Linked DNA regions of Homo sapiens. The protein of the gene in region 1 purifies or fractionates together with the protein of each later gene. This does not show direct contact. Each region holds a gene or a part of one and is shown in the gene's direction. Other genes may lie near its edges. The genes, in order: TNKS, SH3BP5L, RNF114 and RNF166.

Region 1 (7,024 bases):
ACTTAATATATAATGCATGCATTTGTCAATTAGCATATGATCTTCCTTTCGCCAAAATGTTCTTCTATTTGGTATTTTTTTCATTATCTTCAAGGATTATATACAAAAAACAAGATAAATACAAAAGGTGTGAACATAAGCTATGCTTTGAATTCTTTTATTATTTTATTAAATACTTTTAAATATTTTAAAATAATTGTATTGGGATTTATTGGATTTTATTTCTTAGTACGACATGGATAAATAAGTTGTTTGAAATTTAAGTATTTTAATTTGCCTCTTTTCATTTAGTGGACTTGTGCCTCTTCATAATGCATGTTCATATGGACATTATGAAGTCACAGAACTGCTACTAAAGGTAAGAGAAATTCAGAATATTGAGCATCATTTACTTTTTTTTTTTTTCTTTACCTTGTCATGACTTTCCATACTTTCGGCCTCATGAAAGTTTGTTTAGTTCTTTGGGGTTTTTTGTTTGTTTGTTTTGAGACAGGGTCTTGCCCTGTCACCCAGGCTGGAGTGCAGTGGCACATTCACAGCTCACTGCAGCCTCAACCTCCCAAGTTCAAGTGATCCTCCCCCTCAGCCTCCCCAGTAGCTGGGATTACAGGGGTGTGCCACCACGCACAGCTAATTTTTATGTTTTTTGTAGAGACGAGGTTTTGCCATGTTGCCCAGTCTTGTTTTTTTAGATTTTAAGAGAATAAAATACGTTTTTAAACATATTACCATTGCCTTAAAATTTTTAAAACATTGAATTTAATTTCAGCTGTTTTTGAAAGGTGATATTGAAGAAATTAAAACACTTATTTGAACAAGTTATAACTGAAATTTACAAAGAAATAAATGTCTTTTGAGTTTTATTTGATCCAGCAAAATGATTACTGACCTAAAATGTTTTTTTTCTCAATTCAGCATGGAGCTTGTGTTAATGCCATGGATCTCTGGCAGTTTACTCCACTGCACGAGGCTGCTTCCAAGAACCGTGTAGAAGTCTGCTCTTTGTTACTTAGCCATGGCGCTGATCCTACATTAGTCAACTGCCATGGCAAAAGTGCTGTGGATATGGCTCCAACTCCGGAGCTTAGGGAGAGATTGACTTGTACGTATTTATATCCCGAAATCATTATCGCATAAATTGGAATATTTAATTTCTGTTGAGTTTTATCTACCTTAAATAATAACCTTCCATTCTTACAAGCAGACTAATTCATAATCCTCATTTCTAATTGTATACTTTTCTTCATGAATTCCATGGGAATGTTATATACAGACACTTTTTGTATATATTGTATTTATTCGAGCCTAGTTTTAATTCGTATGTTGAAGCTCCTTTTTTGGTTTTTTGAAGGCTAATGAGGATGAGTCAATCAGCATCCATTTCTTGGATACTTGCAATGTGGCAGGCACTAGAAATATAGCAGTGTACAAACCATTAAAAAGCTCTGAGCTTCTGGGGCTTACATTCTTGTGCTATTGACAGTGATAGGTATCTAGCATTATTGAAACCTCTTATGGGCTTACGTTCTTGTGCCATTGACAGTGACAGGTATCTAGCATTATTGAGCCCTCCCCATTTCCCGAGCCCTGCAAGGCTGCACAATCATATTTTTATTTGTCATGTGTGTTATGACCCAAGTATAATCACTTTCCCATATTTAAGTGAGATTTTAAAAATAATTAGGTTGAGGTCATCTTCTGAATATATTACCAATATATACATGCAAATGTTTTTTAAATAAACTTTTTGTTTCAGCATAGTTAAAGATATAAAAATATTGGATTCTCATTCATGCAATTAATTTAGATACAGCTTTTCAAAAAATCTCTCACCTGGTTATGAAAATAATAAGCTATTAATTGTTCTTTGAAAAATTTTCAAGCTCTGCATTTCTCCCATATTTTAGTCCTTTCCTTTTCTGTGTCAAGACCTAATCACCATTGATATTTTGGTAAATATTTCTGTAAATGTTTTCTATACCATTACTTATGGTGTACTTATGGTGGCAATAGTAGTAGCAAGAGTAGTGACAATACCAAAAATAATGCATCAGCCTGTCCTTTCTTTTTTGAATTTTCATGTACCACTGTATACTTTCATGTCAGTGTATGTAGACCTATCTCTTGTTTAAGAGCTAGAAAGTGTTACAGCATATGTGCACACAAATTATTTAACTGGTTTCCTTTTGGTGGACATTTAGGTTTCCTGTTTCAAAATTTTGCTGCAATAAGTATCTTTATAGGTGTATCTTTATGACTCTGAGAGTGTGAAACAGTCTTATTTCAGAGCATACATACTTCACATTAATCTACATCCTCATCTTTTGCATTTTTATCATCATATTATCACATTGCTGCTGTTGTTAAAATAGAGAAATTCATAAAATAATAATATTCCTACTTATTTATAATCATGCTGAAGATTTTTATACATTTTTACATCTTTTTTTATGTCAACCATTGTTTCATTGACAGATGAATTTAAAGGTCATTCTTTACTACAAGCAGCCAGAGAAGCAGACTTAGCTAAAGTTAAAAAAACACTCGCTCTGGAAATCATTAATTTCAAACAACCGCAGTCTCATGAAACAGCACTGGTAAGATTTTATTGTTAATCTATTCCCTGTGTCTATAATAATAACGTAAGCACAAAATATGATTTTCATTTCAGAAACCTTAAAGTAACTTTAGTATCTGAAATGCCAGGAATTTGCATGTTAATTTTGGTTGCATTGATTTTTAAACTTAGTTTGGGGGGTGATTCTTTTCATGGGTGAGAGAATTGACATTTGCTCAACCTCAATTTGGAAATTATTTTACCTTTGTCTTCCCCACCTCATTATAACAAATCCACTTTTGTGGCCAGTGCTTTCATAAACTACAAGATATGATTTTTCAATAGAATTTTTTTTTCTTATGTTTGCTAGATAAATACTAGATTTCCTTCTGTAGAAGATTAAAGTATATTTTTAGATATTTGCATTATCTTTTTGAGCAATTGTATTCAAAGAACTGATTATATTCATGGTAGAAAAATGGCAAGATCATGAATTTTTTGTTTGATACTATACAAATTATTCTTAAAACTATCCACGTTTTTTTCTTCAAATGCACTTTCGGAAAGATTTATTTATTTTCTTTGTCATTGACACATTAAGGCTCAGCTAGAGAGTGGTTAGTGATCGCTCCTAAATTCAGAATTTAAGCATATGTGATGCCTGCATCACAGACCTTAAATATACCTAATTAATATTCTTACGTATATTTGACACAAAAGATCAAACGTTTGTCAGTATCTGCATAAAACAACATTAAAGGATTGACCAAACTGAAATAGGCTAACTATATGTACACTTAAATACATGTCTCTCAAACTAGGGTTGAGATAGATTCAAGCTACACGGTGTTATGCTAGGAGATATTCATAGCCACAGAATAAACCTGACCCACTTTTTTGGAGTTTTCATTTTATTTAGTTGAAAGTAGTTTTTTATTTTTAAATTTTAATACGAATATTAAAATGAAGCAGAATAAAAAAGTTGTATAAATATTATGTTAAAACCTAAAATTTCTGAGAATATTTTTCTCTAAACTGCTTCAGTTCTATCATTTTCTTGCTTATCCTTGGGCATATAAACGTCTCCTGTAGTGCTGGGAGTACCTCTGTAGAAGAGCTTAGAAATACTGACTTGTGTGGCTGATGGCCTAATGAAAGATTGAGTAACTTAGTTATAGATTTCTGTAGCGTTGCAGAGGCATACGTATTATGATGCTCTCCATGGAATATATAGTGAATATTTATTGATTGGCTAAGCCAAAAGAAATAAGATCTCTCTTAATGTTTAAGAGCATAATTTCACCTTGGTTTAAACGCTTACGTTTTGTATTTCCACTATACGTAGAAAGAATATGGATCATCTCTGTGATATAAAACATATACATATGTTCTGATACTCTGAGATAACAATGTTTTAAATGGTCAGCAGATACTGTTCAATTCCAAGAGCTACTGTACATATGGAAGTGTATTTTATTAACTTGGTTTTGTTTACTTTATAGCACTGTGCTGTGGCCTCTCTGCATCCCAAACGTAAACAAGTGACAGAATTGTTACTTAGAAAAGGAGCAAATGTTAATGAAAAAAATAAAGAGTAAGTATAATTGCAGAAGGAGTTGTTCAGTTCCTAAAGAGGAAATGCAATAAAAGAGAGACAATTACCTTTTCTTTCTTTCCTCTTTTCTGTAGTTTCATGACTCCCCTGCATGTTGCAGCCGAAAGAGCCCATAATGATGTCATGGAAGTTCTGCATAAGCATGGCGCCAAGGTGAGGCACACACCTGAGCAGAGTGCCAGACTCAGCACTGAGCAGCCAGCTGCTCTTAACACTGCTTCTCTCTCTCCGATTTTTCTGAAGAAACTAATTTTATAAAGGACTATTAGTTCGTACTTAAATTCATGGATTCTCCTATAAAGCTGATTTAGATCTTGTTTCTAATAAAAATAATTACCCGTGTTTCTTGATCCTTTAATGTCACCCTTCTGTAAAGCAACAAAATATAGCTATAGTCATTTGAAATAGATTTCATCTTTACATTACTTTCAGTTAATACTATACGGATATATTTTGATAGTGTCCACTTGAATAACAGTTTATCAGAAAATAAATTATGTTAAATGATAGCATCAGAATAGCTCTACTTATTCTAAAAAACATTTGTGGCCAGGCACAGTGGCTCACGCCTGTAATCCCAGCACTTTGGGAGGCCGAGGCAGGTGGATCACGAGGTCAGGAGATGGAGACCATCCTGGCTAAGACGGTGAAACCCCGTCTCTACTAAAAATACAAAAAATTAGCCGGGCGTGGTGGCGGGTGCCTGTAGTCCCAGCTACCCAGGAGGCTGAGGCAGGAGAATGGCATGAACCTGGGAGGCGAAGCTTGCAGTGAGCTGAGATTGCGCCACTACACTCCAGCCTGGGAGACAGAGTGAGAATCTGTCTCAAAAAAAAAAATTGTATGCCTTCAGATTTGTAATAATTTTCTCAACCTCTACACTAAAGAAATATGACATATTTAATAATTTTTACTGGCATTTTCTGAATGGTGTAGTCTGAAACTTTGTCAAGCACTTAAGAGAGGAAAGAAGCAAACTGGTTGTTTTTTAGAGGTGACTTGAAATTATAGATTTTTTCATTCTCAAGAATGTATATTTCAAAGCAGTTGTCTCCAAAGTAGGGTATAGACTCCCTATGGAGCATACAAGATGCCCTGTTGGAAAAATCCTAGCATTTCAATTTATAATACTTTTATTTAAGAATAAGGAAATTCAGATTTACCAATATTGAATACAAAGATGATGCCAGCACTCTCACTAGGTCCACGTGTCAGCCATTGTGACTCGTGATGTCAAGGTTTCCTGAGGTAAGAGTGGGACTTGTTAGTATCGAGGGATTGACAGTGGCAAACTCACTTGTTTGTTCCCTTTCAGCATATTTTGGCATAGTGTACTTTACTTGTGTCCAAATGAGTTGAATTTATGGATATTATCCTAAATGGTAGAACTTTTATAAATATCATACTTGATCAGAGTAGTGACCCTGACAAGGGACACAGGGAGTGACCCTGACATGCTTTTATAGTGTAAAAAGGTGGTCTGGTTATTTTGTGAAGTAGTATTTTAAGGTGTTGTCATAGTTGTGTTCTTTTTAATGAAAATAAAAGGGTTCAAAATTTGTTAATAGTTCTCTGAGGACAAATGACCATGACTTGCATGTAGATACCCTTTAAAAAGGAAACATAATCAGATCCTTAAAGGTAAAAGTTACACACTTTAGGTAAATGATAAAATAACTGCTTTTTTAAAAGAAACTTTAAAAAATGAAGAGAACGTTTTGAACATAGATTTTTAGAAAATGTTCACTTTTCTGTGATTTTGCTGAAAAATGATATAAATGAATCACCCAGCCGTCATATCTACATAATTTAAACACATAAAAACAGAATTTTCTCACCTGTTCAAAAGCCTTCCTTAATTTGGTTTTAGGGTAGATTTTGAATCTATTCAAAACATTGTAATGCAGCACTTCCTAATAACTTCGCAAGAACATCAGTAAAGATGGAATTTTACTACAGAATTTCAATGAAAGCCTTAGCATAATTAGTAAATTACATTAAAATTAGGCATTCTGATTGAGTAGGCATAGTTAACAATGCATTTATTTCATTGGCTCCATGAATCTGTATGAAATCTTTGCAACTAATATAGCCATTCAAACTAATTATCAAAAATGAACTTAGAGCCACGTGTAGTGGCCCGTAATCACTCCTGTAATCCCAGAGCTTTAGGAGGCAAAGGCAGAAGGATTGCTTGAGGCCAGGAGTTCGACACCAGCCTGGGCAACACAGCAAGACACTATCTCTACAAAAAATTTAAAAATTAGCCAGTCGTGGTGGTGTGCACCTATAGTCCTAGCGACTCGGGAGGCTGAGGCAGGAAGATCACTTGATCCCAGGAGTTTGAGGCTGCAGTGAGGTATGATCATACCACTGTACTGCAGCCTGGGCAACAGAGCAAGACTCTGTCTCTAAAGAAAAATGAAATGAACCTAAAATTAAACCCTCAAATTCCTAATATCACAATTTTTATAAGTTTTTTTAAATGTTTAAACTACAGTCAATGGATATTTTCTAGCATAAGTAATTAAAATATGTTTTGGACAGGTACCATAGCCTATGCCTTAATCCCAGCACTTTGGGAGACTGAGGTGGGAGGATCGCTTGAGCCCAGGATTTTGAGATCAGCTGGGCAACACAGGCCAACCCCGTCTCTACAAATAATAAAAAAAAATAGCCAGATGTGGTGGTGCATTCCTGTAGTCCCAGCTACTCGGGAGGCTGAGGTGGGAAAATCACTTGAGCCCAAGAGGTCGAGGCTGTAGTGAGCTGTAATCATGCCACTACACTGTAGCCTGGGTGACAGAGCAGTACTCTATCTCAGAAAATAATAATCATGAAATCTTTTTAAA
Region 2 (7,024 bases), on another chromosome or scaffold:
GCATGTTGGGAGGCCGAGGCAGGTGGATCACCTGAGGTCAGGAGTTTGAGACCAGCCTGGCCAACATGGTGAAAACCCGTCTCTACTAAAAATAAAAAAAGCTAGCCAGGTGTTGTGGCGGGTGCCTGTAATCCCAGCTACTTGGGGGGTTGAGGCAGGAGAATTGCTTGAACCCAGGAGGCGGAGGTTGCAGTGAGCTGAGATCTGCCACTGCACTCTAGCCTGGGTGACAAGAGCGAAACTCCGTCTCAGAAAAAAAAAAAAAAGCAGTTCCTCAATGTTATACTGACAGTGCATAAATAGAATATTCTGTCATCACTGACTCTTCTATCAGATGAGCTCTATGAGAGTTGGAGTACACTGAGGTAGCGTAAGACTTACTTTGCCTCCAGTGAACTTGTGATGTCGCTGGTGCAGGAAAGGTAAAGCAGACCCTCGTCTCTCTTGCTAAACTGCACAACACGTTGTGGAATGTTGTGGGTTGTATAGGGAGGAAAGGTCTAGTAATAGCTTCCCTCATTTGATGACACAGGTGTGGGTACGCCAGTGCTCTGACCTCAGCAGGGAGTCAGTGTCTTCTTGCTGTGTGAGAGAGGCAGCCTGGCTTGAGGGGCACCCTTCACGGAGGAGGCCGGTGGCATTTTGCCCTTCTGTGCTTGGGCTTTCAAGATGAGGAGGAGATTGGGGTGTTTGTCTTTCGAGGTCCCTTTGAGTGTTGACAGTTCACTAGACCATGCACATTGCTCTGATCATGTGTTTCAGTGCTTTAGGTGGGTGTTCATTTCTCTGGATTCTCAGTGCATTTACTGGGTTTCCATCCACCGTCCATAAAAAGCCACCAGGGAGCTTCAAAAATACCCTTACCTGAGCCTTTCCAGACATGTGGATTCTCTTAGTCTGGGTGGGGTGAGAAGGGATTCTGATGTTACAGTCAGAGCCAAATCCACTGGGCCAGGTATATCCCAAAGGTAGAGCGCCTGTTTCGGTATTTTCTGAGGCTCCCGGAAATGGCTGTCCTTCGGATGAGGCCCTGTCTGACCTGGGGCTGGGGCTCCTTTGCAGGCAGGCAGCTCCATGGCCATTTATGGTGGGATTCCTCTGGAAGTTAGAAGGAAGTCAGCTGGTGCCTACCTGGAGCGTGCTGTCCCTCCAGGGAAGGCTGCTGGCTGTGTCTCCTTGTCATGATCTTAGTGGAGTTCTTTTGAGTCCTCCAGGCTCATCCTCAGCTTTCCGAGAGGGTTCCAGTGGAGGGAAGAGGAAAGGAGCGTGGATCTAGGATGGACCTGGGTCTGTTCTGTGACTTTCTCAGCCCCCTCTTAGTGGTTGCATTCTTTCCTCAGATGTGAGTGCTCTCGTTTACCTGCTCCTTTCCAAACTCTCTAGGGTGACTTTGCAACCTCTGTGACCTCATCTAGAAGTATGGGTTTAGCTTTCACAGGACAGTCATCACCCTGGCCCCAGTTACCATTAGTTTGAGTCTTTTGATGGTCTGCACTAGGTGGGGTGGGAGCATCTGCAGCCTGAGTCCCCATGCCTTTGATTCAGTGTCCTGGCATCCTGGGAATCTGACTGCTGTGCCCTGGGAAGGTCACCCTCCCTGCTGGCTGCTGGCTCACTGATGGATGATGCACGTTGATTCAGACTTTGTCCTCCCCAAATTCCGTTTCAGCTGAGTGCCAGGAGTCCCTGGTGAAGCAGGCCAAATGGAATGTGTTGCTGACTGCCCAAAACTGTCCCAGGTCCTCAGTGGATTCCTGCTCAGCCTTTCCCTGGGTGTCGCCTAGGTGGGCTATCCCCCTCCCTCCTGTGGTGACCTTGCCCTCCAGGCTGCTTTGCTCCCCAGGCATCTTCTTGTCCTGTTAGGGAGAGCTTTGTGACTCTGAGGGGACAGATCCCATCAGCAGATGGCTTTCTGTAAATTGCTGGAGGTGCCACTGGGAAGCTAGTTCCCATATAGAAAGATAATGCCCACTCCTGCCACTTGCCAATAGCAACAGCTCTTCTTGTCCTTTTAACAGTAGTAACAACTTATGCTGAGCCATCCAATCCATTGATGATCTTGTCAGGAGCTGGAAGTTGATGACTGGAAGCATTTGAGGCCATGGAATCCAGTGGGGATCCCGTCTTGGACTTTGATTTGCCACATGAACATTGCAGGGTGGCCTTTACCAACTGACCCCCCACAATCAATGTTTGTTGCATTTCCAATCCCTGTCCTTTTCCTACGTGGGCTGTGGTTTTCCTAGATTACAGCACTTCTTTCTTTACTGAGATGTCCTTCCAGTGGTGTCCTCATTCCCAGGAGGGTGGTCACAGTGGAAGGAAAGTGAGATCAAAGGTCGGTCCTGGATCCAGACCCAAGTCTGTCACTAATTTTCCGCCTGGTTGTTTCTCATCTATCAAATGCAAAGTTGCTGAGAAAGAATATTCCAGCAGGAGGTGCTGAAAGAACTGGTCACTCGTCTCCCAGATAGCCTAAAAGCCCCTGTAGGCCTCGTCAAGCCCCAGGAAGCTGGGCCCCCAGGGAGGTAGGTTGCCTTTCAGCTTGACAGACATTGCCTTTTTAGGGCCTGTTGGGGTGATCGTGTCAGTTGCTGGTGATGTCTCTGTTCGGAAGGCACTGTGAAACTTGGAGTTCCATGTGTCTGGTAGTGTTGATGCTGACCCTATGCCTCCTCTGGGGCCCTGAGCTGTGTTGGCTGCCTGTTCTTCCAGAATGGTTGTTATTTTATGGACACTGGGTTGTGGGACACTGTAGATGCATCTACCCAAATACAACAACTTCTAGACCTTCGCCACCCAACACAGGAGCCACATGCCACTGTCTAGGTTGAGATGTGTCACAAGAGTCAAGTGCATACGGATTGTGAAGACTTAGTTTAAAAAAGTAAAAGTATGGATAATAATATTATTTTATGTTGATCACATGTTGAAATATATTTTGTATATATTGGGTTAAATGTATTTTTATAATTTCACTCTTTTTTTAAATTTTTTTACTTTTAAAAAATGTGGCTTCTAGAATTAAAAATTCCATGTGCAGCTCCTGTTACGTTTCTGTTGAATAAGTCTCTTCGAGAAAATTTAGAGCAAGCTTTTCCAACCCGTGGCCTGTGGGCCGCATGCAGCCCAGGATGGCTTTGAACACGGCCCAATGCAAATTTGTAAACTTTTCTTAAAACATTATGAGATTTTTTTTTGTGATTTTTTTTTTTTTTTTTTTTTTTTGAGACTGAGTCTTGCTCCTTCACCCAGGCTGGAGTGCAGTGGCACAATCTCAGACCACTGCAACTTCCGCCTCCCAGATTCAGGTGATTCTCCTGCCTCAGCCGTCCCAGTAGCTGGGACTACAGGTGTGTGCCACCATACCCAGCTATTTTTTTGTATTTTAGTAGAGATGGGCTTTGCATCATGTTGCCCAGGCTGTTCTCAAACTCCTGAGCTCAGGCAATCTTCCCACCTCGGCCTCCTGAAGTGCTAGGATTACAGGTGTGAGCCACTGCGCCTGCCCACGATTTTTTTTTTTTTTTTTAAGCTCATCAGCTGTAGTTAGTGTTAGTGTATTTTATGTGTGGCCCAGGACAGTTCTTCTTCCAGTGTGTCCCAGGGAAGCAAAAAGATTGGACATCCCTAGTTTAGAGCCAGATTTGTGGCCCTCCTTAGGCAGGGTCTACACTGTTGTAGGTAGGTGTGTGCATTTTCATATCCTCATTCCTCGTTCCATTACAGGTTTCTACCTTTGTGTTCTTCCTGTTACTGTAATTAACATGTCAAACCATTTCCTGTATTCTTACCTGCTGACCCAGATCTTTTCAGGATCAAGGCAGGGGATGGGGGGAGGATAGAAGAGGTAGAAGGGACTAAAAGGAAGATTGTGCATGTCAGCCTGACTCCCTCACTGGGTTGCTGAAAGGCCCGAATGAGGTGAGTGGGGGCCAACATCACGGCCATATGAGTGGGAAGTGATTGTGGTGTCACTGCCAAGTGCAAGTCATGGGTCTGGGCAGCAGGCACATGCTGGGCTGGGTCTCTCTGGCCTGTCCAGCCTCCTGTCCAGAGACAGCAGGGGCTGGTGAAGGCAAATCCTATAGCTAGGCACCAGGTATTTCCTGGCACAAGGCCCTTGGCACAGACCAGCACTGCTCCTCAGTAGTGTCCTTAGCTCACCAGGGGCTCTGGGAACTTTTGTGTTTTCTCGGGCAAGGGAGGATGACTTGAGGCCAGTACCCCTCTCAGCTCTCTTCCATTTCATGGAAAGCCCTGGATGGTTCTATTGCTTCTCTCTCCAGTCCTTCCAGGGGCCAGGAAGGCACTCAAACCAGCTTGTCCAGCAACTTTTCCCCAGGACTCTCCCTCCCTCCCACAGGATCTGCTCTATAGGGACCTGCGGTCATGGTCACCCATTGCCCAAGCAGGCCAAAAGGCTTCTTGGACTCTATACACTTTCCTGATCTTGACCTTAGTCATCCACCAAGCCCCTGTGATTCTGTGTCCTGCGTTGCCTTGGGATCTGCCCTCTCCTCTGCCACCTGGAATACTATAGACAGCCTCCACCTTTTTTTTTTTGTTTGTTTTTTGTTTTTGTGATGGAGTCTCACTGTGTCGCCTAGGCTGGAGTGCAGTGGCACGATCTGGGCTTACTGCAATCCCTGCCCCCCGGGTTCAAGCCATTTTCGTGCCTCGGCCTCCCAAGTAGCTGGGATTATAGATGTGTGCCACCACGCCCAGCTAATTTTTGTGTTTTTGCTAGAGACAGGGCTTCACCATGTTGGCCAGGCCGGTCTTGAACTCCTGGCCTCAAGTGATCTGCCCACCTCTGCCTCCCAAAGTGCTGGGATTACAGGTGTGAGCCACCATGCCTGTCCCAGCCTCCACTTTTGTCTCCCTGGCTCCCCCAGGCTTTCGTTACATTGGCACCAGGCTCTGAGAGACCCTTTTGCCATTGCAGAAAGTCCTGGTACTACCTCCCATAGTGCTGTAGCCTTACTGACCTTCTCACCTGCCAACTTGTCTGCCCAGGGTACCTGCTCCCCTTTGGTTCCTTGGCCCTTTGTTCTTCACTGGCACTTTATTTTTTTGAGACAGAGTCTCGCTATGTTGCCCAGGCTGGAGTGCAGTAGTGTGATCTTGGCTCACTGCAGCCTCTGCCTCCCAGGTTCAAGTGATTCTCCTGCCTCAGCCTCCCAAGTAGCTGGGACTATAGGTGCACGCTGCCACACCCGGCTAATTTTTGTATTTCTAGTAGAGACAGGGTTTCACCATGTTGCCCAGGCTGGTCTCAAACTCCTGACCTCAGGTGATCTGCCTGCCTCGGCCTCCCAAAGTGCTGGGATTACAGGCGTGAGCCACCTTGCCTAGTCATTCACTGGCACTTTTGTGTCTATGAAGTCCTTCCAGCTGCTGAGCAAGTGTTCCAGGCATCCTACCCTGACCTTCTGCTGCCCAATTAGGTGACCTTGCTACCCAGAGAGCACCCACACCCACCCCTCACAAGGCTGCACATACTGCCCAGGACCTGCTGCTGACTTGCTGGGTTTCCTTACAGGCTGCCACCTCTATGTCCTGAATTCTCAGGTCTCACGGTCCTGAGAGGTGATAAGTGTGCAGTAAACATGTGCTGACTGAGTGGCCCTGCCCTGGCCCAGGTGGCCATCCTCTCGCAGAGAGCGAGCCTTCAGGTCCAAGGAGACTCCCTCAGTTTGAGGAAGTGTTGCAATCTCACGGAGAGAGTGAGGGCTCACCACAACTTCACGTTGTGCATATTAGTGTTGCATTCTCCAAACCTCAATTTCTTCATCCTTGAAACTGGGGTTTTACTACCCAATACAAGGTAGAGTTGTGAGGATTACGTGAGATTGTATGTATCAGGTCCCTGATAGACAAGAAAGCTTTTGGCAATCTCCGTATCTTCTTTCCTTTCCTGAGTGTCTCACCTCATTTCCCTGGGCAAGTGGGGCTCTCTCTCTCTGTGTTGCTCCTGCCTTGCATGGTTCATTCAAGGCTACTTCCTTCCACTGCACTAATTTGCCACCCCTCTCTGTGGCAGGAGGAGTTGGAGCACCTGAACCAGGCCAGCGAGGAGATCAACCAGGTGGAACTACAGCTGGATGTGAGTGTCCTTTTCCTTATGTGCTTGGGCTGGTCCTTGGAAGTATCTCCATCTGTCTCTTTCCCAGATTGAGGCAGTGGCGGTGGGAGGGGTGTGTCTGAGAAACAAGAGGGGCTGGGACCCAAACATGTGCCTTTCCTCTGCCTTGTTCCTTTCCAGGAGGCCAGGACCACCTATCGGAGGATCCTACAGGAGTCGGCGAGGAAACTGAATACACAGGGTTCCCACTTGGGGAGCTGCATCGAGAAAGCCCGGCCCTACTATGAGGCTCGGCGGCTGGCTAAGGAGGTATGGCTGGCTGACCACGTTTGAGGAAGGCTACGTGCTGAGCCTGGCCCTGGATTCTTCTGTCTCTATATGGAGTGAGAGACAAAACACCAGACCCTGAGGGCAGAGCCCTGGGCTAGACCTGGCTGGTCGGAACCAGCTCTGTGGGCTCAGGAGGTTCCTTTACCACGTGGGCTCTGGGCTTATGGTCTATAAAATGGTGAGGGTGGCTGTGGGAGAATATTTAGTTCAGCCCTGCTAATGTTTAAGTGCCTTCTGTGTATCAGGAATCAGGCTTTAGGGTATATCAGATATGTCAGTTCTAACATCCTGTTGTTTTCATCTGCGCCCATTTCCTCTTCCCTTTGGTTCATGTCTCTCTTCTGAATCTTTTCTTTGCTTACTCCTCACTCTTTTCCCCATCCCACACCCCTTTTTTCTGTAACAAATTACTTTTAACAAATAATATGTGTTCACCATTGGAAAAACATAATAAAACAAGAAGGAAACAAAAATCACCCAAAATCCTACCATGCACGTTTCATGCATTTTGTTTCCTGGGATTTGTTGTCATCCTGTATGGTGAGGTGACAGATACAGACAACTGCCTTGGAAGAAGAGTTTGTTCCCGAGAGGAGGGGACATCCA
Region 3 (7,024 bases), on another chromosome or scaffold:
GTAGAAAATGGTCAAGTGTTCAGAAGATGGCCTTTCATTATATATCTTTAGTTCTTTCTGGCAGATTTGGTTATACTGTCTTAATCTATCAGGTTGGGTAAGTAGCCCAGGGTGTCTTCTCCATTCTTTCTGTATGCCTTATCTCAGCATTACCATCTTCCTAGGCTTCAGGATAGGAACTCGGTCATCTTTGACTTCTTTTCTTCAAAGTCAGTAAGTTATCAAGTCCTCCTGATTCTACCTTTCTGTGAATGGTTTCCTGAATTCATCCCCTGCTGCTTCAGTCAGACCCTCACAATCCTCTGCCTTTAGCCATCTGTTTGGTTTCTACTTTGTCTCTTCTCACCTTCTCACCTAAAAAAAAAAAAAACTATAGGGCTGGGCTCAGTGGCTCACACCTGTAATCCCAGCACTTTGGGAGGCCAAGACGGGTGGATCACCAGAGGTCAGGAGTTCGAGACCAGCCTGGCTAACGTGGTGAAACCCCGTCTCTACTAAAAATATAAAATTAGCTGGGTGTGGTCATGCGCGCCTGTAACCCCAGCCACTTGGGAGTCTGAAGCAGGAGAATCGCTTGGACCGGGGAGGCAGATTTTGCAGTGAGCCGAGATTGCACCATTGCACTTCAGCCTGGGCAACAGAGCACGACTCTGTCTCAAAAAAAAAAAAAAAAAAAAAAGTAACAAAACTTTGTTTTCCATGATAGCACAGAGATATTTTTCTGAAACCTGGATTTGGCCTTGTTTTGTTAATACCTTCCTTTTAAACTCCTGGCTCCCTACTGTTTATGAGGAAAAGTCTGTTAGATTTTTATTTCCTCAGATACATATCAATTTTAAGCCTAAATTAGGCCTAGAATAGTCTTCCCTTCCTCTGCTAGCTGACCTCTTTTTTTAAAATGCCAGAGGGGTAATGGGCCAACATCTGTAACAAGGTTCGAGGGTGGCACATCTCACACATGCACATGAACACCCAGTCCTCAGGTTCATGAACTACAAAAGGATCCATCTGAACCCTTTTTTTTTTTTTTTTGAGACGGAGTCTCGCTCTGTCTCCCAGGCTGGATGGAGTGCAGTGGCGCGATCTTGGCTCACTGCAAGCTCTGCGTCCTGGGTTCATGCCATTCTCCTGCCTAAGCCTCCCGAGTAGCTGGGACTACAGGCACCCGCCACCACTCCCAGCTAATTTTTGTATTTTTAGTAGAGACGGGGTTTCACTGTGTTAGCCAGGATGGTCTCGATCTCCTGACCTTGTGATCTGCCCGCCTCGGCCTCCCAAAGTGCTGGGATTACAGGCATGAGCCACCGCGCCTGGCTGAGCTGAACCCTTTTAAGGCTGATCAGAGATGCCGTCTCTGCAGTCTTCCCCTCCACCCCCCCCTTGAGACAGAGTCGCACTCTGTTGCCCAGGCTGGAGTGTGCAGCCACCTCTGCCTCCCAGGTTCAAGCAATTCTCCTGCCTCAGCCTCCCGAGTAGCTGGGATTACAGGCATCTGCCACCATGCCTGGCTAATTTTGGTATTTTTAGTAGAGACGGGTTTCACCATGTTGGTAAGGCTGGTCTCAAACTCCTGACCTCGTGATCTGCCTGCCTTGGCCTCCCAAAGTGCTGGGATTACGGGCGTGAGCCACCGCTCCCAGCCTTCACTGCAGTCTTACCAGCCCTTTCCTTCTCAGGTCACTAGTTGATTTTCCCTTTATGTTCCTGTAGCGCTTTGCCTTCACCTGTAATGATAGCAGCTCCCGTTTGTGGTGCGTTTTGTAAGGGCTGGACACTCTGCCAGGGGTCTGCTATACAAACTGTATCCTCCCAGCAGTCCTAGAGGTAGGTACTACTCTCTCCATTTCACAAAGGAAAAAATGGAGATTCAAGAAACCCCACTGAGATCCTTCAGTGGCAGGGCCTAAGGCTTGAAGCCTCAACCTTAACACCTTCACTGTGTCTATCACAGGAGTTTGCATTTGTTTCTGTAGTTGTGTGTTCTTTGTAGTCCACTCCTATCCCTCATTTTTTCTGGCTTGGAAGGACTTAGTATTTGAACTGGGAGGAGAGAGCAAGTTGTTTTTTACTCCATTATCCATTGATGTCTTTTTAAAAGTTGATCCATATTTGTCGTCTTGTCTCCATGATGCGTGACAGAGGTTCTCTGTATGTCTTGTTCTAGCTTTTGCTCTGCATGCCTGCAGGAATGTCTGAAGCCGAAGAAGCCTGTCTGTGGGGTGTGTCGCAGCGCTCTGGCACCTGGCGTCCGAGCCGTGGAGCTCGAGCGGCAGATCGAGAGCACAGAGACTTCTTGCCATGGCTGCCGTAAGAATGTATGTGGAAGTGATGTGGAAGAGTCCATGTCTTTCCATGATAAGTTGGGGTAAAACGTACAGCTGCCATGTTGTTGCTGAAGTTAGAGCATGACTAGGTCACTAACAGCACGCGTGCATGCCAATTACCTGTGGTGATGGCTGGGCTGGTTTGTTTTCATAACCTTACTGGTTTTTGTTTCTTTTTTTAAGAGTTGGTTAAGTATATATTTTAGGTTTGAAAGCCATAGAAATCAGTTATCCCAGTTTTTTCCTATAAAAGATCAATTATGGCCAGGCGCGGTGGCTCATTCCTGTAACCCCAGCTCTTTGGGAGTCCGAGGCAAGAGCTTGAGGCTAGGAGTTAAGAGACCAGCCTGGACAACATAGTGAGACCTCATCTTTACAAAAAAATAAAATTAGCCGGGTGTGGTGGTATGTACCTGTAGGCCCAGCTACTCAGGAGGCAGAGGCCAGAGGATCACTTGAGCCCAGGAGTTTGGGATTACAGTGATCTATGATCATGCCACTGCACTCCAGCCTGGCTGACAGCAAGACCCTGTCTCTTAAAAAAAAGTCAATATGAAATCATTGGATTGTAATAACAATAGCTAACATTTGAAATGCATCCATGCTCTTGTATAATCAGAGTCAAGTATATTTATTTTCATACCTGTTATAACTGCTACTGGAAAGGAGAAATACTGTTGTCTTATTTTCCAAGAGATATACACAGCCTTGTTGATTTTAGAATCATTAAAATTTTTAAAATTGCAGACCATACAAAAGTACACAATAATGTAGGCTTGTTCCTCATTCCAGAGATTACTTCAAAATTCGTTCAACTTAAGGCCTGGCAAGGTGGTTCATGCCTGTAATCCCAACACTTTGGGAGGCCAAGGTGGGTGGATTGCTTGAGTCCAGGAGTTCTAGACCAGCCTGGACAACATGGTGAAACCTCGGCTCTACTGAAAATACAAAAAACTAGCAGGGCATGGTGGTGTGTGCCCGTAGTCTCAACTGTTCGGGAGGCTGAGGTGAGAGGATGGCTTGAGCCCAGGAGGCAGAGGTTGCAGTGAGCTGAGTTCGTGCCACTGCACTCCATCCTGGGTGATAGAGCCGGACCCTGTCTCAAGGAAAAAAAAAGTGATTTAATTTCGAAAGCTGCATAACATTTTCTGCCCTTTGACAAACACTGTAGAATTTTTACCAACCAAGTTGTAGGATTTTTGCAAAATGAGATTATACTATAATATATATATTTCTTCAACTTTTTTCACTTTTTTAAATGTACACTCATTCCCAACTTTTTTTTTCCACTTTTCAGGTTTTTTTTCTCTTACATATTGGACAGCCTTGCATGTCAGTTTCATTATTTTTAACACTTCGGTATGGATGCCCATAGTAAGAATATACCTTACCATCTCCTTTTCAGCGTGATTTAGTATTAGGGATGCATAGTAGGGCCATTTCAATGCTGAATAGGGCTATTTTCTGTGTCTTAATTGGGGGCTTCACTCTTGAGGCTGGGCATGGTGGCTCATGCCTATATCCTATCATTTGGAGAGGCCAAGGCAAGAGGATCACTGACCCCAGGAGTTCGAAATCAGCCTGGGCAACATAGTGGGACTCTGTATATACCAAAACAAACCAACAAACAAAACCAGCTGTGTGTAGTGGTGTATGCATGTAGTCCCAGCTCCTTGGGAGGCTGAGGTGGGAAGATTGCTTGAGCCCAGAAGTTTGAGAGCAGCCTGGGGAATATAGTGGACCCAGTTTCTACAAAAAAAGGAAAAAAAAATTGAGGATTCCTCAGTTTGTAGCTTAAAGTCAAGTTCTTGAGCTGGAGGTGAGACAATCATCATGGTAAGCTGGAGCTCAAATATTGGAGCATTTTTTTCCCCCTTTGAAGTTTACTTTTAGAAACTCAAAATATTGAAATACAATTCCCTACTGTCTTCTTTTTTTTTTTTTTTTTTTTTTTTTGAGACGGAGTCTCACTCTGTTGCCCAGGCTGGAGTACAGTGGCGTGATCTCAGCTCACTGCAGGCTCCGCCTGTTGGGTTCACGCCATTCTCCTGCCTCAGCCTCCTGAGTAGCTGGGACTACAGGTGCCCATCACCACGCCCAGCTATATATATATACACACACACACACACACACACACATACATACACACAGAGATATATATATATATATATATATATATTTGTATTTTTAGTAGAGACAGGGTTTCACTGTGTTAGCCAGGATGGTCTCGATCTCCTGACCTCGTGACCCGCCCGCCTCAGCCTCCCAAAATGCTGGGATTATAGGCATGAGCCATTGCACCCGGTCTCTTCATCTTTATTTATGCATGCATAATGTGGTTTTTGGTTTTGTTTTGTTTTTTTTCTGAGACAGGGTCTGGCTTTGTTGCCCGGGCTGGAGTGCAATTGCGTGGTCTCAGCTCACTGAAACCTCTGCCTCCCAGGCTCAAACCATCCTCCCACCTCAGCCTCTCAAGTAGCTGGGACTACAGGCATGTGTCACCACGCCTGCCTAATTTTTTTGTATTTTCAGTAGAGACGAGTTTTGCATGTTGCCCATGCTGATCTCGAACTCGGGAGCGTGAAGTGATGGCCCACCTCAGCCTCCCTCAGGATTACAGGTGTGAGCCACCGTACTCCGCCCATGATGGGCTTTTTGTTTGTTTTACTGTATGCTTTTGCTTTTCTCCATTTTCAAGATTAGTGATTGTACTGTTGGCATGCCTCAGAAAATGTTTTTCTTTCCTTTATCTTCCCTCTTTTCTTCAATTCTTAAAACTTTCTTTCTTTTTAGAAAACCTGTAATGAAGCACTATTCTCTGGGTTTTCTTCTCTTTCTGTTTTACTGTTGCACAGCCTAGATTTTATATGAAAGGCTGGGCCGGGCGTGGTAGCTCACGCCTGTAAACCCAGCACTTTGGCAGGCTGAGGCAGGCAGATCACTTGAGGTCAGGAGTTCGAGACCAGCCTGGCTAACGTGGTGAAACTCCATCTCTACTAAAAATATGAAAATTAGCTGGGCCTGATGGCACACACCTGTAATCCCAGCTACTCAGGAGGCTGAGGTGGGAGAATCACTTGAACCCGGGAGGCGGAGGTTGCAGTGAGCCGAGATGGTGCCACTGCACTTCAGTCTGGGCGACAGAGTGAGTGAGACTCTGTCTCAAAAAAAAAAAAAAAGAGAATTTAGATTTTAAAGATTATTTCTCAGAGGCTGGTGATAGATACTTTAACCAGGGTTAGTGGCTTTTATATGTTTTACCTAAAGGATCACTTTTCTCTGCTGCACATAACAGAATGTGGTTTTTGGCTTGCTGTAAGGAGACTAGTTTAAATGCTAGTATAGAAAACTTTTAAAAACATCCTAGATTTGGAGCTTGTCTGTGAGCAGACAGCCTATCATGAATAGGAGCAAACCTCTAGGAGAGTTATTTTAGAGTGGAAGTGGATATCCTGATTTAGTCGAATAAAATAGCAGCCTTGGTATTAATGGGAAATCTGCAATAATCAGGGTTTCAGCCCCATCAGCGTAGTCAGGAGTTTGGTGAGATTATTTGCCAGGGTGGTGTAGGTCTAGTTTTCTTTGTGCCCTTGTTTGGGACTATATTTTGCCTGTTGCAAGGTCCTCACTAACTTATGGGCTCTGATTCTTCCTATTTGAGTTCTTCCTGTCCAAGATCCGGTCCCACGTGGCTACTTGTTCCAAATACCAGAATTACATCATGGAAGGTGTGAAGGCCACCATTAAGGATGCATCTCTTCAGCCAAGGTAAATGACTCAGTCTCCCCTTAGGTGGAGGTCATCTCTTGCTATTAATACAAAGAGGTTGCATGCCCAGGGGTTTAGTTGTATGAATTGTTATGCTGGCTAAAGCTGATACAAGTATTTTGGGAGGAGTATGCAAGGGAGGACTCTGGTGTTCACTTCAGATGTTAGCTGAGCTATATTCTTTTTTTCTTTTTTGAGACAGAGTCTCGCTCTGTTGCCCAGGCTGGTGTGCAGTGGTGCAATCTCAGCTCACTGCAACCTCTGCCTCCCGGGTTCAAGCGATTCTCCTGCCTCAACCTCCCAAGTAGCTGGGATTACAGGCACCTGCCACCATGCCTGGCTAAATTTTGTATTTTTTAGTAGAGACAGGGTTTGTCATGTTGGTCAGGCTGGTCTTGAACTCCTGATCTCAGGTGATCCGCCTGCTTTGGCCTCCCAAAGTGCTGCGATTACAGGCGTAAACCACCACGCCCGGCCAGCTGAGCTGTTATTTTCACAACACTTGACCTGAGTCTGAAGTGATCATCAGCATCCTTATCATTACACATTTGGTGAGCTTTGCTCCTTTTTGGAGTGTACTGTGGTTGAAGTTTAATGGAAAGGTACTCACAGAAAAGTTTTCTTTTTTCCTGTGTTTCACCTTCCAGGAATGTTCCAAACCGTTACACCTTTCCTTGTCCTTACTGTCCTGAGAAGAACTTTGATCAGGAAGGACTTGTGGAACACTGCAAATTATTCCATAGCACGGATACCAAATCTGTGGTGAGTAACCTTTTTTTTTTTTTTTAAACTTCATTAAGGGAAAGGATCAAGCTTGGAGAAAAATGACGGGATTAGTAGAATGAACTCCTGTGTGCCCTTCACCTAGATTGACAGATTGTTAACATTTTACCATATTTGCTTAACCATGCTCTATAGTACACATTTTTTGC
Region 4 (7,024 bases), on another chromosome or scaffold:
GGGCACCTTTCCTCTCTTCCCAAGCTCTGCCTGGGACCCTTTTCCTTCCCCTCAGCCCGTGGCCGTGCTGTGCAGCCGAGCCCCGGCCTGGTCTCTGGCAGCTCAGGGTTCACTCAGGAGGTGCACCATCCAGTCGTTTCCAGTGTGTTTGCAATTATGCAACAATCGATGCAATTCTAGAAGATTCTTCCCACTCCAGAAAGAAACCCAGGACTCTCCCCCTCGCCTGGCACCCACCCGTCTGCTTTCTGGTCACTGGGTTTCTCTCTGCTGGACGTTGAGCGTGAGTGGACCCCCACGACACGGGTGGGACGTGCTTGCTGTCTGCCCTGCACTGTTTTCCAGGCCTTCCGGTGCGTGGTGGGGCTGCACGCCTCTTCCCGGCCGAACGCCCTTTCCATGGGTGTGCACGCCACGCCGTCTCTTCATCCGTTTACCGACGGGCACCTGAGCTGCTTCCGCTTCTCCTGCCATGAGTGCCTGAGTATGGGGGTCCCCTGAGGCCTCCCCAGGTGGACCATCTTGCCAGCACCTTCCTCCCGTGAACGGGTGAAGTAGGCGGCCCCCCCGGCTCAAATCCAGGGGTCAGTGCCAGGGATGACCCTGGAAATATCTGCTGGGGCGCCTGGTGAGAACTCGGGTGAGGTGGGTAAAGTGAGCGACCTCTTTACTCTGCAGAAAAAGGCTTGTTCACTTTCTGACGGGTCTCAAGCTGAGTCCCGCTTTCTCTCACACGAAGTTTCATGTGGGAGCCACCAGCCAGGTGGTGGCTCTGTGGGAATCCAGTGGTGGCAAAGAGGGCCTGGGGGACAGCAGGAGGGACTTAAGATGCCTGCTTGGCCACCTTTGCCTGAGGCCCTCAGACTTCCTCCTTGCAGAAAGGGCCTTTTCTTGAGGGATGTGGAAATCTCTTGACAGCAAAGAGGACTCTGGCCCTGAATTCAGCTGAGTCGTTTGTGAACCCAGGGCCTGCCCACAGCCCCTCTGTCCAGTGGGGCTCCTGTACCAGCCCTGTGGCCTTGCCAGGGAGAAGGGAAGCTACACCCCCGGGTGCTGTAGCCTTCCTGGGACTGGGGGGCTCTGCCTCAGTTCCAGCTCCTCGCCGCAGCTCAGCTGTCCCCACAGTGCTCCTCACAAGGCCAGATGTGGCTGCCCCAGTATTAAGCTCCTTCTCTGTGTTTGCACTGGGGGCTCTCGCGCCTGGTGCTCCCACTGGCTGGTGGTGCACCCCTCCAAGGGCTGTGTGCGTCTGCAGAGCGGGAGGGTGTGCGAGCCCAAGGAAGCCCCTGCTGCTGGAGCCCGGAGTGCGCACGGGGCTGTGGGACGCTCAGTCTGTCCTCACGATGTGGTGTCCCCAGGGGCAGTGCCAAGAGCCAGGGCCCATGGGTGCCCAGGACCCGAGCCTCCGCCCAGATGGAGCAGGACCCCCTCCTGCCTGCGAAGCTGTCCCAAGCCTGGTGACTGCCACCCAGCCTCAGGATGTGCTGCCACTTGGCTAGCTTTGGCCCTTCCCTGTCCAGTGCATCTGGAGCCCCTGGGGCCTGGCCGTTTCCTTTCCCACGATTGTTTGAGGTTTTATCCCCCAGAGTGTGGAGCCGGGAGAGTTTCCAGAGTCCCCGGGCTGTCCCTGCGCCCCACAGCCCACCCAGGTGTTGTCGCCACGTGAACGTGAACCTGGTAGCCCGAGCTGGGGCCTCCTGCCTATGGGAGCTCCTCTGGCCCACTCGCGGGGACAGCCATAGTGACGGCTCTGCCGCTAGCCAGAAACCACAGGGGCCTACTGTCAGGAGGGACCGGGGCCACCCTTTAGCCAGATGGGGCCCATCCAGCTGGTGGGCCCCGGACATAGGAGTGACCATCTCCAGAGACGGCGACAGCGGTAGGGGGAGCTGCCCCTGTGGACCCCACAAATGCTGGGTCCTAAGAAGGGCCCCGAGCAAGGCCTGCGGTTCGGGAGACCCGAGGGGCGGGCTGGCACTCAGGCCCCTGTGCCCTGCAGGTTCTGCGGGGAGTGTCTCCAGCCCTGCCTGCAGGTGCCATCCCCGCTGTGCCCACTCTGCCGCCTGCCCTTCGACCCCAAGAAGGTGGACAAGGCCACCCACGTGGAGAAGCAGCTCTCATCCTACAAAGCGCCCTGTCGAGGCTGCAACAAAAAGGTACCCGCCTGCTTGGGCCGCCCTGGAGCCGGGGTCACTTGATGGGCAGCCTCAGCCCACGGGTTCTGCAGAGGGTGGGGGCCGGGGCCCTCTCTCTTTCCTGTTGAGTAATCGCGGTCTCTGCTCCTGCACCAGGAAGCCAGCCCCGGCGCCTCCCTCCCCTCCCGTCTTCATCTCTCACTTCCTGTGGTGACGGCTGACGGGGGGGCCAGCCCGGTGGGGGTAGCACTGTCAGAGCCGCCTAGCCCGGGCCAGGGGAACCCACGTGGGTTGTGGCCAGGGTAAGGACCAGGGGGCTGAGCTGAAACCTTCCCAATGCAGCCTTCCCCTGCCAGCCGATACCGGGGACGGCGCTGGGGGCTCCAAGGTCACAAGGGCCGCGGGCACAGTCAAGGACATCTAAGGGCCGAGCACCCTCCAGCTGCCAGGAGGGCCAGAGCCGGGCTGATGGGCACTGCCACACCCACATCAGAGCAGCGTAAGGGCCTGCAGCTTGTCATGGGCCTCATTGGCCCCCATGTCCATCCTGTCCTGGTGCCTGGCCCGTGCCCCGTGGCCCTCCCTGGCACATCCGCTTCAGGGTGGAGAGGCCCCAGCCAGCGCCCCGTTCTTTCAGTGGCTTCCGGAGGACTGAGCAGCTAGAGGTGATTTTGCATTTGCGTTTCCCGACGTTGCCACATCTCAGGTGAATAAGTTCTATGAAGCGCTCACACTAGTACGTGGCCCCTCGGTGGTTTGTCCTCGAGGTCGAAGGTCCAGATGTCCAGGGGCTGCCCTGGACTCCAGAGTGGTGCGGCTGAGCAGGCTGTGGTCTTGGGTGCTTGGGCACCTCCCGTCTCTCCCTGCTCAGAGTTCTTCTCTCCTGGGCAGCCAGAAAGGATCAGAACCGGTCACATGCAGAGCGGCCTCCCGTATCCCACAGCAGCTCCGTTCTCTAATCTGGGTCTTCAGATGCGGCTGTGTCTCCCGGCACCTTGCTGGAATGTGGTGCATCCCTCGGAGTCCAGCAGCCCTTAGGCAGAGCTGGGTGCCGAGCTTGAGTCCAGGAGGGCCTCAGACACCTGCGATCTTGCAGCCTGTTGCCCTGGACAGTGGGTGTGCTGTGGGTGGAGGATGGCGCCCTGCCTCCACGGAAGCATCCCCAGCTTGCCCCTCAGTCACACGAAGCGTCTGTCCCCAGCCTGGGGCATTTCTGAGTGGCCTCCACTTGGCCTCTTCCTTTTTCTGGAGCAAGTATTTGAACTCCTGCAGGCGCCAGAGATCTCCTTACCTGTTTCCCGCTACCCTTCTCCAGCCAGGTTTCTGCCCTCGGCCAGATTGTCCTGCAGTGACTTGCTTTTGGCCATGGAGTAGTGGCTGCTCAGTGCCTGAGATTGTTTTAGCAGCAGAAGGGACCGGGTCCCCCTGCTGCTGGCAACACAGACGCTTGCTTACAGTTCTCTGGTCCTGGACACCTGAGGTCTCGGCCTCCCCAGGACGGCCCTTCCAGATTCTCAGGACCGCCTTGCCCTCCCTGCCCTGTCTCCTAGGTGACCCTGGCAAAGATGAGAGTGCACATTTCGTCCTGCCTGAAGGTCCAGGAGCAGATGGCCAACTGCCCCAAGTTCGTCCCCGTGGTGCCCACATCACAGCCTATCCCCAGGTAGGCACGCTGCCGGGCAAGGGAGAGGAACTGTCCTCGGCGGTTTCCTCGTTCTGGGAGCAAGCGCAGTGCCCCATCCCAGAGAGGCTGGGGGAGTCACCCGGGGCCGGGTCCACTCTGGGGAAGTGGACCTTCCTTGCCACCCTGCAGGAAGGCTCCTGTGCTGCCCTCCCTGGCATACCCACCAGGCCCCCTGGGGTAGGGACAGCTCAGCTGTGGGGAGCAGGAGGAGGGCGCAGGCCGGGCCCACACATCGCCTCCCAGCAGGTGGATGGGCCGAGAGACGGCTCCTGCCAGGGCAGCGCCAGCAGAGTCTCTGCCGTTTGGCTGGCCTAGTTGTGTGGGGTGGACGAGGGTCCTGGGTGTGTCCTCAGGAGGCCATGGCGTGCAGAGGCACGGGGGGCACCCAGCCACTGCCACGCTCTTGCAGCCTACAGAGGGCAGGCCTGGGGCCACGCCTGTGTTTGAGAGAAGCGGGGAGGCAGAGCCCCTAGACACCTAGCCGTGCCACTCACTCTACCCCCGCCCCGCCAGCAACATCCCCAACAGGTCCACCTTCGCCTGCCCGTACTGTGGTGCCCGCAACCTGGACCAGCAGGAGCTGGTGAAGCACTGTGTGGAAAGCCACCGCAGCGACCCCAACCGCGTGGTGAGCAGTGCCTGCCCCAAGCGACGCCTGCGCCAGGGGAGGCCTGTGGGGGACAGTACAAGGCCCAGGAGCCTGCTCGCGGCGAGTCCGGGGGTGCCCAGGCCACAAAGGCCTCCTGGGACCCAGGGTGGGAACTTGGCTGCCCGAGCAGCACCTGGCGGAAACCGGGGAGTGTCCATGAGTCCTTCAGGGTGACGCGCACTGAATAACTCGCTTGTCACCGGGACACGCGCCTCCAGGTCTGGGGTGCCTTCCCAGGCTGAGGCAGCACTGACGGGGCTCAGTGGAGGGCCCCCAGTCCTACTGCGGCTACCCCGCCTCTCCGCGGTCCGGCTCGGCTTGACCCCAGTGCCTGTTCCAGGTGTGCCCCATCTGCTCGGCAATGCCCTGGGGGGACCCCAGCTACAAGAGCGCCAACTTCCTGCAGCACCTGCTTCACCGACACAAGTTCTCCTACGACACCTTTGTGGTAGGCATCCCGCCAGCACCGTCCTCCCCCACGCCCTCCTCATCCACCCTCCTCCTGCTCGGGCCCCTCGCCAGCCTCAGGGTCCGCAGGGTTCAGAGGAAGCCAGAAACAGAAGCCTCGTTTCAGGTGGCCACATTCCCCCAGGTTCTGTGGGGGCTGCCTGCAGGTGGGGAGTGATGGCAGCTGAGTTTGAGTGGCCACTAGAGGGTGCCCAGGCCTCTCGGGGACATGGACCGCACAGGGCAGGTCCCTGCCTGCCCACCCCACAGAACCCCTCGAGGGTGAGCCAGGCTTCCTTCTGGAAGCTTTCTAGAGAGCGCGGGAAGGACTTTCATCAACATCGAACACTCCAGCCCTGTCTCCTTTTCCCACCCGCCGCGGGTCAGGCACACACCTGGCCCCCGGGCCTGCAGACCCTCGCACAAACTCCTCACTCCTGGTGCGGCCCCTCCCTGCGCCGCCCTGTTCATTCCTGGCCCTGGCTAACAGTCCTGGCGATGGCTGTCACTCCCTCTGCCAGTCGTCCGGGACCCACGCTCCGCCTGCCTCAGGATGGAAATTGTTAGAGGTCAGGGAGCCCTGGCCGGCCTGCTCACCTCGGAAACCCCGGGCTTAGAGTCCGACCTGAACCAGCAGCCATCCATTCCGAGTGCCCCCGTACCCAGCGGGTGATGGACACACCTTCACCTTCTCACCCCCCAGAGGACCGTGCAGGCCCCGAGCCTGTGGGGACAGTGGAGCTGGGTCCTTCCTGTGTCCTGCTGGAGGGAGGCAGGAAGGGTGGACACGCCTGTGTGGGTGATGGGCAGAGGGGACCTCTCCTTCCTGTCTCCCTCGAGCCCGGTGCATCTCTCCTTCCTGTCTCCAGGACTACAGTATTGACGAGGAGGCCGCCTTCCAGGCTGCTCTGGCCCTGTCTCTCTCTGAGAACTGAAGGGAAGCGCAGCCACCCGCCTGCGTCTGGGGTCAGGGATGTCCCCGCTCCTGTGTCGCACCTGGCACCTGCTCGGGAGCGCACCTCACCGGACTGAGCTCACAGGAGGAGCCTGCACCCGCGCAGAAGGGGAGCCGGGGCCGAGCCTCCGGGCCTGAATACGGGCCAGCCGCCGAGGCCGCCAGAGCAGGGCCGCCTGGTCCCACCGGCGTCGCTGGGTTCTTCGGTGCTTCTGGCCGAGCAGGCGGCCTACTTGGGCAGGGCTGGACGCTGGGACCTGGAGCTGCCGCCGTCTCTTCAAAGCCATGATACCCCCTCGTGGGAAGAAGGGACCGACGCGCGAGTCGCGCTCCGCAGTCGAGCCGGGAGGAACCCAGGCTGCTGCCCTGCCCAGCCCGACCCTGCCCCGGCCCCACTTCCACCTTGCGCATTTGGTACTGGCTTTTGTGATACTTAGGAACCCTGGCATCTTTTCTATATTATCCAGTGTGATAATCTTTTCACGTTTTATAGAGCAAAGACAGAGCAGTTACTCTTCATATTGCAATATCTGTGTTTGACTAGGAATAATAGTATTTTTATGGAACATTTACAAAATTATATTTTTTAAGAAAACAATCAAAACAAGCATTGGGGGATTGGGGCAAGGATGGAAGGAGCAGTGGGGCAGCTGCCAGAGCTCAGGCGAGCCATGGGGTCTGCTGTGGGGTCTGCCCTGGCCACCCACTGTGTGTCTGGGTCCTTGAGGTTTGTACGTTTCTCTTTGATGACCAGGAAGAAATCCCAGCACCCCAGCCACAGGCTGTGGCTGCTCCCAGCAGAGGCGGGGCCGGCAGAGAAGGGGCCTCCTCCACCCAGAGTCCTGGCCTTGGCCCGCTGTCACCTTCAAAGCTGACTGTGCCCCGCTGCGGGAGGGGACGGCACCCCAGTGGTGGCAGAGCTTGGGGGCCTGGGCAGGGGCCCGCTTGGCGGGCCGGGCAACACGTCAACATTCTTTTCTGTTCTTGGCATTAATTATTGCTGTCTTTTTTTTAAAAAAAAAAGTTTAAATAAAATGTCTCAGAGCATCTCTAGCAGCCTCGACTGGCTTTTGTGCTCCACGGTGTGGAATCGCCAGCTGCTGTCTGTGTTGGAGGTCGGCTGTGTCCTCCCCAGGCAGCTCACGCTGGGGGTA

Evidence for each region.
Region 2: the proteins of TNKS (region 1) and SH3BP5L purify together in Homo sapiens (affinity purification with mass spectrometry; 3 studies listed by BioGRID and IntAct, with this or other methods). This does not show direct contact.
Region 3: the proteins of TNKS (region 1) and RNF114 purify together in Homo sapiens (affinity purification with western blotting; 2 studies listed by BioGRID, with this or other methods). This does not show direct contact.
Region 4: the proteins of TNKS (region 1) and RNF166 purify together in Homo sapiens (affinity purification with mass spectrometry; 4 studies listed by BioGRID and IntAct, with this or other methods). This does not show direct contact.

The regions. Positions count from the first base shown.
Region 1 is NC_000008.11:9,705,896-9,712,919, forward strand, and holds part of TNKS (poly [ADP-ribose] polymerase tankyrase-1), read left to right. Parts: intron 1-291; coding exon 292-358; intron 359-915; coding exon 916-1,102; intron 1,103-2,475; coding exon 2,476-2,597; intron 2,598-4,059; coding exon 4,060-4,151; intron 4,152-4,246; coding exon 4,247-4,325; intron 4,326-7,024.
Region 2 is NC_000001.11:248,815,907-248,822,930, reverse strand, and holds part of SH3BP5L (SH3 domain-binding protein 5-like), read left to right. Parts: intron 1-1,669; exon of another isoform or gene 1,670-2,528; intron 2,529-6,046; coding exon 6,047-6,109; intron 6,110-6,268; coding exon 6,269-6,397; intron 6,398-7,024. UniProt on the Homo sapiens protein: Functions as a guanine nucleotide exchange factor (GEF) for RAB11A.
Region 3 is NC_000020.11:49,939,397-49,946,420, forward strand, and holds part of RNF114 (E3 ubiquitin-protein ligase RNF114), read left to right. Parts: intron 1-899; exon of another isoform or gene 900-1,004; intron 1,005-2,164; coding exon 2,165-2,315; intron 2,316-5,985; coding exon 5,986-6,092; intron 6,093-6,739; coding exon 6,740-6,854; intron 6,855-7,024. UniProt on the Homo sapiens protein: E3 ubiquitin-protein ligase that promotes the ubiquitination of various substrates. In turn, participates in the regulation of many biological processes including cell cycle, apoptosis, osteoclastogenesis as well as innate or adaptive immunity.
Region 4 is NC_000016.10:88,696,394-88,703,417, reverse strand, and holds the end of RNF166 (E3 ubiquitin-protein ligase RNF166), read left to right. Parts: exon of another isoform or gene 1-628; intron 629-1,999; coding exon 2,000-2,156; intron 2,157-2,467; exon of another isoform or gene 2,468-2,477; coding exon of another isoform or gene 2,478-2,798; exon of another isoform or gene 2,799-3,684; intron 3,685-3,685; coding exon 3,686-3,798; intron 3,799-4,332; coding exon 4,333-4,447; intron 4,448-4,808; coding exon 4,809-4,916; intron 4,917-5,302; coding exon of another isoform or gene 5,303-5,484; intron 5,485-5,784; coding exon 5,785-5,850; 3' UTR 5,851-6,917; downstream 6,918-7,024. UniProt on the Homo sapiens protein: E3 ubiquitin-protein ligase that promotes the ubiquitination of different substrates. In turn, participates in different biological processes including interferon production or autophagy.